2 separate regions of the Homo sapiens genome follow, and region 2 is linked to region 1. The links come from fine-mapping of genetic effects on gene expression. A gene starts in region 1. The other region holds a variant in brackets. All regions are shown on one strand. Distances are between the middles of the regions.

Region 1 (5,382 bases):
TTCTGACACAGCAACAGGAACATATTCCAAAGTCAGATTCCCTGTGTCTATGAAACTGCCTTCCCCTGGTTGCTCCTTCAGACCTTAAAAGGAATTAGGATACCTAATATGACTAATCTAAAGTGTTTCATTTTAAAATAAGCAAAAATTATGATACATAATACCTACTTCACAAGGCTATTGCAAAAATTAAACAGCTTCAGTAGTGAGCTTAGCCTAATACAGTTTTTATAAATATTTCATAGGAAATTTCCTGTTTTTAGTGCATCAAAAAAGGTCTAATAAATTTGGTTCTTTGATTAAACACAAAGACTCGACTGTCCAAGTCAAAGTCACATCACTGTCAGCAAAGGTAGTCACTACCACATAATAGCAGCAATCATTACTGAATATCAGCTAAGGGATTTATCTATTATCAATTCTAAAACTAAATCTACAAGTTATGTAAAATTATTCCCATTTAGGGCTGAGAAAACACCTCAGAGAGACTGCATCACCTGCCCAAGCTCCTGCAGGAAGTATGTGGCAAGTGATCTCAAGGACCCAGGGCCCTTGACACCAATGCTACTGCTTTCCCGAAGCCCTCTGCTGCCTCCTTAATTTCAAGAGCTCCTGTAAAGATGGGAGTACACATCACTGAATTCAGAGCTCAGAGAGCTAGCCATTCTATCAGAGAAACATTTTTGAAGTGGCAGTACTGTTAATATAAAAAGCAGAAGTCCACCAATCAAATAAACACCAATCCCCAGGGTGCTGTTGGCTATCTAATCCTATCACTAAACTTAGGAGCAGAGGGCAGATAAGAAAATAAAGATATGAGTACAACATACTATAGAATCAAACTGCTAATGAGAACCTGTGTCATGATTCTGGAAATGTCATTTGAGTGCTCAGACAAGCTAGACCTCATAAATCTTACACAGAGATTTATAATAACAATGTCTCATTTGGGGCACACAAAAATCTACTGGAGAAGATTAGGAAAGGATTATTTAACTTGGATAATTTTTTAAATTAAACTTTTAACTCTTATTTAAAGACATTTTAATACTGTAACGTTAGTGTTAAGAAGCAATAACTTTTTCATGTTTCACATTTCAATACAGAAAAAAATAGATTAAAGATACATACAGGTTAAAGTGGGGATCCAAGAATATAGGATTAAGGTGGGGAAAATGACAGAGTCATGGAGGAACTGGTTCTTCATTGGTCTTCACAGGAGGATGGGGAGTAGGAGAGCCAAAGAAGAATCTACAGGAGCTGGTGCCCGAATGTGGTAAGTGAGGAAAAATGGTAGTCTAAGCTGGCTCAAGGTGGGCTAGTGTCTGGAAAAGTGAGGACCCATACTAAGTGGAATGAGAAGGCATTTTCTACATAGTGAAATCTCTGGTGACCACTGAGACTTGAGATGCTCTCTTCAGTGTGGAAAGATGGGGGAAGAGGAACGTTTAGCAACACAGGAGGTAGATGGTCAAAAAAGCAACTACATGCCTTAAGAAAAAAGTTGGAACAATGATTCCTACAGTCTTTAGGTCACTAAAGACCTTTAATGTCCTCTCACTGGTTAAATTCAAGCAACACACACACATTTTAAAAATTAATGATTCCTATTACGTGTGAATAAACCTGAACTTTTTTTTTGTTTTAGTGAACATAATTTACACTGGCAAAATCGTCCCCAATCCTCCATATCAAATGAGTATAGAGGTGGGTGGGTGAGCTCAAAGGTCTTTTGCCCCTGTAGTTAAAAGCCTAAAGAAGTCTTCTGATCACTGTGGCTGATAGTAATACATCTCAGTATTAATACAGACAAGTGACTACCTGTAATACAGGTCTTCGAAACATGGCTTCTATTTTCTTTTCTTACAGTCTAATCTTTAGGCTTTTCCTGAAGGAAAAAAACAAAATAAGAAAAAAACATTACCTCTTATGGCAAAAGTACAACTCACCAGTCCTAAATTCCTAACTATATTCATAATTTTTATGCACTCCAATTTTGTGACCACAACGTACCAACATTCCTGCACATCTGATGAGGATTCCTTCCTCCCTCCCAAATAAACTCACACCTGTATGTCTTTTTGGTCCCAAATAACTTCCTCTTCCTCCAACCCATCGACAAAATTTTGATTCTGAGTTAATCCCACTTCCAATCCACTGTCTTCTCAAATTTCATTACTATGCAAGCTCCCTTAGAGCAGAGATTTGTATCTGCTTTATTCACTGCCATTTTCTAAACTTCTAAAAAAGTTCTTAATGCATAGTAAGGCCTCCATAAATATTAGCATCACCAAGGGACTTATATCTGAAACCTGTTACTGAAAAATTACTGCCTTCATCTCCGTTAACAAAGACCAAGCAGCGTAGAGACCCCCGGGCTAGCCAGCCACACCATAGGGAGAGGTGGACACCCTTTACCGAAGATGGCGCCACCACCTGAAAACCGAGGAGAACTGGAAGGAAATCACGCGGTCCTCCGCACGACTGATGAAAGGGCCAGACACCTACACAGAAACACCTCCCGACCCACGCAGGATCACGCGCAGCCAAAACACACGACTCCAGCACTTCCTTCGCGCTGGCTATCCCTTCCTCCCTCACCTGACGATCTAACCCGAGCAGCCCAGCCACGCAGGGGATCACTTCCGGCGCACAGGGAACGCAAAGCTCGCCAGAGGAAAAAGGAAACAGAAACTCCGCAACTTGCGCCTTGGAAATACTGCCGGCTAGCGCTGCGGGAAACGGCTCCCCTTAACTCTGAAGTTCCGCGATCTTCTCTTTGTGCGCGGGCGGATGGATCAACGCCGCCAAGTGGTGAGTTTGGAAGGTTTCAAGTTTAGAAGGTTTCAAGTTTAGAAGGTTTCAAGTTTGGAAAGAAATGAAATTATGTGATGAGGTTTCTAACTGGGCCCAGGAGGGGGCGAGGTAGGCAAAACAGAGACTAGCTCTGCCTGGAGGGAAAAAAAAGCAACATTTGTGACCAGCCTAGGCGACATAGTGAGACCTGTCTCTACAAAAAATATATAATTAGCTGGGCGTGGTGGCGCGCGCCTGTGGTCCAAGCTTCTCCGGAGGCTGAGGTCGGGGGATCGCCTGAGCCCTGGAGGTCGTTGCTGCATTGAGCCGTGAACGCACCACTGCATTCCAGCCTGGGCAACAGAGCGAACTCTATCTCAAAACAAAACAAAACAAAACAAGAAAAAGAAAAAAAGAAGAAAATTAAAAAAAAAAAGAAAGAAAAAGAACGTCCCAGGTCTGTTGAAGCACTAAGAAAAGCAGAAAAAGAAAGGGGAGCCAGGGAAGGGCTGGCAGGCTGTGCAATTTAAGGGAGCACCAGAAAAACTGGCAATCAAATAATATATTAATGTAATATTTTAAAAAGTAAAAATTAATGCAGGAAATCCGGGAGGAACAAAATAAGAGTCATGTGTACCTTAACAACAGGGTAAGGTCTGAGGATTGCGTCATTAGGCGATTTTGTTGCTGTACGAACACCACAGAATGTACTTTGACGACCTAGATGGTGGAGCCTGGACACACCTCGGCTCTGTGGTGTGGCCTGCTGCTTCCAGGCTGCAAACCTGACAGCATGGGGCTGTACTGAATACCGCAGACCATTGTAATTCATGGTAAGTATCTGTGTGTCTAAACATATGTAAACATGGAAAAGGTACAGTACAAATGCGGTATAAAAGATAAAAATGGCACACCTGTATGGGGCGCTTACCATGAATGGAGCTTGCGGAACTGGAAGTTGCTGTGGGTGAGTAAATGAGTGAGTGGTGGCCCAACATGAAGGTCTAGGACATTATTGTACCCACTAAACACTTCATAAACACTGTACACTTAGGCTACACTCAGTTTATAAAAAATACTTTTCTTCCTTTAATAAACTTTCACTCACTATAACTTTATAAATCTTCCAAATTTTTTTACGTTTTAACTGTTTTGTAATAACAATTAGCTTAAAACACACACTGTACCACTGTACAAAAATATTTTTCTTATATCCTTATTCTACAAGCTTTTTTCTACCTTTGCTTTTTTTCTTTTTTTTTTTAACTTTTTAGCCATTTTTTAAAAAAACTAAGACATAAACACACACATTAGCCTAGGCCTACACAGGGTCATTATGATCAATCTCAGCCTTCCACTTCCACATCTTGTCCCACTGGAAGGTTTTCAGAAGCAGTGACACACAGGGAGCTGTCATCTCCTATAACAGTGTCTTCTTCTGGAATCCCTCCTGAAGGACCTGCCTGAGGCTGTTTTACAGTTAACTTTTAAAAAATAAGTTAAATAATAATATAATAAAAAGTATAGTAAATACATAAACCAGTGACATAGTCATTATTAATATCAAGTAACACATGAGTAATACATTGCATTCTGATGTTTTAGCAGGTATGATGTCACTAGACGATAGGAATTTTTCAACTCCATTGTAATCTTATGGGACCACCTTTGTATATGCACTGTTGTATATGCAGTCTTTTTCCAAAACATCATTATGAAGTGCATGACTGTATTAAAATTTTAACTGAATACAGGATCCAAGCCAGACTGGAGCCTGAGGCACAAGGAAGAATATGCACCCCTGTGTATATGTGTACTTATGTATTTTTAAAAATTGGGGCTAGGAAGGTTAGTGGGGGGCTGGAGGGAAGGTGGGGATGGTTAATGGGTACAAAAAAATAGAACGAATAAGACCTACTATTTTCGATGGCACAATAGGTTGACTATAGTCAATAATTACTTAACTGTACATTTTAAAATAAGAGTGTTATTGGATTGTGTGTAACTCAAAGGATAAATTAAGATGATACCCCATCCCCCATGATGTGCTTATTTGACGTTGCATACCTGTATCAAAATATCTCATGTACTCCATAAATATATACACTTCCTTTGAACCCACAAAAATTAAAAATAAAGACAAAAACAAAAAAAAATGTTTAATTAAAAAAATTTTGGCCAGGTCCAGTAGCTCATGTTTGTAATCCCAGCACTTTGGGAGGTTGAGGGGGTGGATCACTTGAGCCCAGGAGTTCAAGATCAGCTTGAGCAACATGGCAAAACCCTGTCTCTGTAAAAAATACAAAAATTAGCCAGGCAGCCGGGCGCCGTGGCTCACGCCCATAATCCCAGCACTTTGGGAGGCCAAGGCGGGCCGATCACGAGGTCAGGAGATCGAGACCATCCCGGCTAACACGGTGAAACCCCGTCTCTACCTAAAAATACAAAAAATTAGCTGGGCGTGGTAGTGGGTGCCTGTAGTCCCAACTACTAGGGAGGCTGAGGCAGGAGAATGTCGAGAGCCCGGGAGACGGAGCTTGCAGTGAGCTGAGATCGTGCCCCTGCACTCCAGCCTGGGCAACAGTG
Region 2 (5,382 bases), 21 kb after region 1:
CATCATGATTGGCCAGGTGCAGTGGCTCACGCCTGTAATCCCAGCACTTTGGGAGGCCACGGCAGGCAGATCACAAGGTCAAGAGATCAAGACCATCCTGGCCAACATGGTGAAACCCTGTCTCTACTAAAAATACAAAAATTAGCCAGGTGTAGTGGTGCGCGCCTGTAGTCCCAGCTACTCAGGAGGCTGAAGCAGGAGAATCACTTGAACCCAGGAGGTGGAGATTGCAGTGAGCCAAGATCACACCACTGCACTCTAGCCTGGTGACAGAAAACAAACAAACAAACAAAAACACATCATGATCTAAAATGATCGTGTTGTATTTTAGGAAGTAACATCTCTGAGCTGGAAAACTCAGAAAGGTTATGAATATGAGATAACATATAATGTGGGGTGATTTTAAAACACAAATGATTTTTAATGACATCGGTGCTTTAATTTAAAATAATTTGACAAGAAACAACTCTCCAAATCTAAGTTTATATTTTTAGTGCATTTCAAAGGTACTCACTCATTTGATAATTCTGTAAAAGTTTTCATAGAGCGCTTTATTGCATAAACACATCCATCCAGCCTCTTAATGCACTTGTAGACTGTACCAAATTCGCCAACCCCAATTTTTTCAACCTCCAAGAATTCTTTTTCATAGCGGGAAGCCATGTTGGTTTCTCGTAAAACACATCTCTAAAGTATTTTAATAAAAAGGAAATTAGAGTAATTCTACCATGTTGTAAGCAATAAAATTAAACAGTATTACAGTCCTAAGTTGCTCCAAGTTTTCAAAAAGACTTTTGAGGTGACTGCAATGAATTCTACTTGGGTCAATATTCATGGTAGCAAGAATCTCCCCAATTGCTGACTATCTTCTTTGTTTTCTTTGTAACCTTCTGTACAACCCTATACTGACAATTCTCACTTATTTTTCAATATTCTTTTCTCTATCTGGGCATACTGTTCTTTTCTACATGTTCCTAAGGGGACACAACTTCTCACTCCCAGAGCTACTGTCCTTAGTTCAAAGAATAACTGGGACCTGGGTGGAGCAAATTAAAAGAAATGAAAGACCCCCCTTCTTTATGTGTCTTAAAGTCTGAATGCTAATGTTTCCATCTCAAGCTGAATAAGCATACTTGTTTTCTGTTTCTTTTCCCAAAAATACCAGCCTGGAGAAATGATTTTGTCAAAATTGTCAAACTTTGACAATTTTGGTTAGTTCAGACTATGTGCTCAGGTCTAGCAACCACTCCCGCTACTGGCCAACTAGCAACATCATTCATTGCCCAGGTAGTAAATAACCCCAGGCCAATCTGAACTCCTTTCAGTTTTCCTATCTGTAGGATGAAGATCATGGCAACACTCTTCAGGGTTCTTTTAAATATTACATGAGAATATACAGTATTACATATATTGTAATATATCTTAGGATAGTGTCAAGTACATAGTAAATTCTCATTAAACTATTATGACCAAAAATCTCCATAAATTTATATGAATCTAAATCCAAGCTGATTTATCTCCCAAAGTCATCTTTTCTCAGTGTCCCAATCCTGAAGAATTTTTCTCCAACTTTATGAGTTTGAAAAATCTTGGGTTTTACTACTTCCTCATTTTCAACATCTAATTCTGGTCACTTTCATCAGCAAGATCTCTTAATTTTCATTACCCTTAGCCAGTCTCAAGCTCTGTTCCCTTCTTGTCTGGATTGGCTACAGCTACCAGCCCTCTCTTTAACTCTTCTAATAGTAAGAATTATTTTTGCAAAATGATACCACAGAATCAGAGATGCCTAATTGTTTCCCATGAGAAATTCAAACTCTTGATAAGAAAGCCTCAAGACCTTCTACCAACTGCGCACTCACTACTTGACTACCCTCCCCCTAGATACCAATGAAGCCAGTATACCATCTGCATCTATCCCTGACCACTCCCCACCCACCATACCCCTCTTACACCTGAACTCTGTTCTCCTGCCTTGATAGCATTAAAAGTTATTTACTTCCTTAGCCTAAAATTATCTTAATATACAATCTCTTCCTACCCAAGCTCTATTTCATAGAAGTATTTACTAACCACTTCTAGATTTTAAAGATATACACGCATATGTATATTCACATTGCACATATGTACATACACATATACACAAATACATATATCTCATAGCTTCTAATTTACATATAGATTGTTTTGAAATTTCAAAGGTTTTAACTCCTGTTTGGCCAGATGTTTTTCCTTAAAGGGTGTAACTAAATACAATGCTTTGCACTTATTTAATGTTCAATAAATATTAGAATTTCTATCTGAAATCAAGAGATAAATTATAAAATAAGTGAGGAATAAAATCCAACAGTAAAATAATGGAGGCATAAGTCAGAAACATTTGCATTTGAAGGAACACCTGTGCCAGTGGCCGCCTTTTCTGTGATGTTTACAATAGCCAAGTGCTAACATTTTAACATATTAACATATTTATTTACGCAAATAAAACTTGCTTCAGAAAACTTTAAAAATTTAAAGGAAAAACAAATATGAAGTTTCCACCATTCAAAAATGTTGAAATAGCAGTGGTTATAGCTCCATTTCATTCTCCCTGTGATTAATGTGCAATAGATAGTTATGGTCATTCAGCGTATAAAATTTTGAGTCTTTTGCACACTAAACATTAACATACGCATGTTTTCAAGGTGTTATAAACATCTTAATGGCAATTTAGTATTTCACTGACTTAAAACTGTAATTAGCTTAGCCATTTTTCTATTATCAGGCATTTGGTCTCCCCCCTTTTTTGCTGTTACAATAAACATCTCTAAGGATAATGTTTGCAGTATTATTTTCTTAGGTTAGATTATCAAATGAGGGATGGATCAAAGATTGTGAACATTATAAAATCAAATATTGATACATTTAAGAGCTAAAATTTTACATATAAATCTCTGGCTCTATGCCCCTTTTTTCCATTATCTTTTTCTATTTTGAGACCAAAAATATCTTAATTTTCCCTTCACTTCTCTACCCCATGAGTGTAGAGTTTTTCTCCAGATTAAAATAGTAGCAGAAATATGTAATTTTAAAATTACTCTAAAGTAATGATCCAGCATATACATATCAGACACTGCCTGGCA[G/A]AGTTACAACTAGCTGAGAACACAGACCCTGACTAGGGTCCAGATAAATTCAGCTGCAAAGCACATTTACAAAGCTAGCGTGTGAGATGGGGTGAGATGGGGAGGGGAGGAGAGAAGGAGAGTAGGAGAAAGGAGGGGAGGAGGGGAGATGGGGAAGAGAGGGCAGAAGGAGAAGGGCAGAAGGAGAGGGTAGAAGAAGGGGAGGGAGGGTGCAGGGTGAAGGAGAGGAGGGGAGGGTGAGGAAGGAGAAAAGGGAGGGTAGGGAAGAAGGGAGGAGGGAGGAGAGAGAGGGAGAAGGGGAGGGGAAGAAGAGAAAGAATAGGATAAACTGCCTATATTGTGGCCGCTGGGACAAAGAACTACGCTTACCTTGGCAGGCAGCCCTCCCTTGCCTTCCTCTGGACCAGCTTCCTCACTTAAAAAAGAAAAAAAAAGTTTATCAATATATAATTAATATTTATTGAGGCCGAACTATGCTAGGTTCTAGGGATGTAAGAGTAAATAAGACAATTCATTTCTCTTCGGTTTATATGTGGAGGCAGGGATAACCAGGAAATTTCAATACAAGAACCTAGAACTGGATAAGATAACAAGGATACCATGGACAGCACTCAATTATTTCAAGAGTGAAAAGCTTTCCCAGAAGAGAGAATATATAAGCCAAGATTCTGGGAACGAGTAGGAACTAGCTAAGGGAAAAGAGTGAGGTTTTCAGCAGGTAAAACACCATGTGCTGGAGCAAGAGAGCACAGAACATATGTGCAACTGTTAAATGGGTATCTTTATCCCCAAACTAGGAAACCAAGACAGAGAGAGGTTAAATAACTCTAGGTCAAACAATTAGCAAGTGGCAGAACTGGGACTTGGAGCCAGGTCTGACACCAAAGCATTTGCTCCTCACTGCCACACCACACTCTCTTTCCGACACCCACCCCTCCCCTAGAATCTGGCTTTGTAATCGGTTCACAGGTAGACTGCAAGTAGGGCAGAATCTGCTCTAACCCGGGATGAGATATTTTCAATTACTCTTCGATAAGCTAAGTGACCAGCAGACATCCTCTTTGCCATGCATACTTGTATTCTGGATCCTTAAGCAAGATTTCAACTAGCTATAGATTTTTCTTTTGGAGAAACACAAGGTAGAAATGGCAAATGGAAGGCACTACATTCATGGAAATAAATCAATGCTTGGTATTTGTGATTTAGTACCACATTGTAATACTTTATGAAGTGTTTATAAATTATAAAAATAAGGAAAAATACTCTCTTAGAAGCACCAAATGACGCTACAAAAGTGTCAGGATTTCATATTAGCTGTCTTTGTTGCTGGCTTCGGTGAGAGTATAATGATTTACAGAGACTCCTTAAGAACTAAAACCAATCGAATTCTTGGTAGCCAAAGTAGGTGGGTGGACTTGTGCTGAAGTCCTGTTTATTTAAGTAAGAAGGAGATAGTGTTGAGAGAACCTATTCTGGTCAAAGACTGATTAACACATACTCATTGACTCCAAAGAAACAACTTGACATAGCACATTAAATGCTCTGCAAAGTTTACATTGTTAGCTGTCCATTTATTTCGCTGAGTACATATGAACATAAATGACTGCCCCACTTTGGAGGCGATTCCATTCTATAAAAAAGCCTTGGAGAGACATAGTAATGTTCCTGAGTAATATGCACAATCCTTATTTGGATGATTTCTGTCATTCAGGGCCCTTTATGGAATAGTACAGTTTGGCTTTCTATTCTTTAGCAGCTCTGAAAGCAATGCTTTTTTGCTTCAGCCAATCTTCCATCACCCACAGAGAAGTTCAAATCCTTGCTCTATAGCTTTCATCACTAGTCACACAAGACTCAAAGCAGCAACGTACTCTTTGAAGTTTGAGCTACACGTTCCCCAACTGCCAGCCTCATATTAACCAGAGGGGACCCCTTGAATGCAATTCCATAGCCCACTCAACTTCCTAATAGAAGCCAGAGATCTATTGCTTATTCTGTCTTATCCTTTTATAGAGAAAGCATCTACAGTACATATCAGAATGGAAAGATGTTGGAATCTCTGTGATAAAGCAGGTAAAACCAGCATTGATATCTAGGAAGGGGAGAATATGTAAGCATATACATTTCATTCAAATAGAGTTCTCGTTCCTAATCTTACTTTAACACTCACTTCTTACTACTTGACTGTAGTAGGGTCAGTTCTCAAAAGTCATAAGTAATAGAGCACTTACAGATCTCCTCTTATTTTCCTCTTGCCACC

The links. PIP is the estimated chance that this variant, and not a neighbour inherited with it, causes the effect.
Region 2: its variant is the best candidate, but not a certain one, in a credible set for the expression of WEE2-AS1 in thyroid (GTEx, PIP 0.87).

What each region holds. Positions count from the first base shown.
Region 1 is chr7:141,735,630-141,741,011 of GRCh38, reverse strand. WEE2-AS1 (WEE2 antisense RNA 1) reads left to right here and starts at 2,970. Exons shown (of 4, transcript NR_199841.1): 1 at 2,970-3,629. It overlaps SSBP1 (single stranded DNA binding protein 1), which reads right to left and starts at 2,654. Exons shown (of 7, transcript NM_003143.3): 1 at 2,602-2,654; 2 at 1,822-1,888. The coding sequence starts at 1,845. RefSeq lists an enhancer at 2,752-3,637.
Region 2 is chr7:141,714,377-141,719,758 of GRCh38, reverse strand. WEE2 (WEE2 oocyte meiosis inhibiting kinase) reads right to left here. Exons shown (of 12, transcript NM_001105558.1): 2 at 5,354-5,382; 3 at 3,492-3,537; 4 at 515-687. The region is part of intron 3 of WEE2-AS1 (WEE2 antisense RNA 1); the gene reads left to right. Among named protein-coding and RNA genes, the nearest start is that of WEE2, 8.7 kb to the right of the region's middle. RefSeq lists a silencer at 4,444-4,644. The variant G/A (reference allele first, on the strand shown) is at 3,123.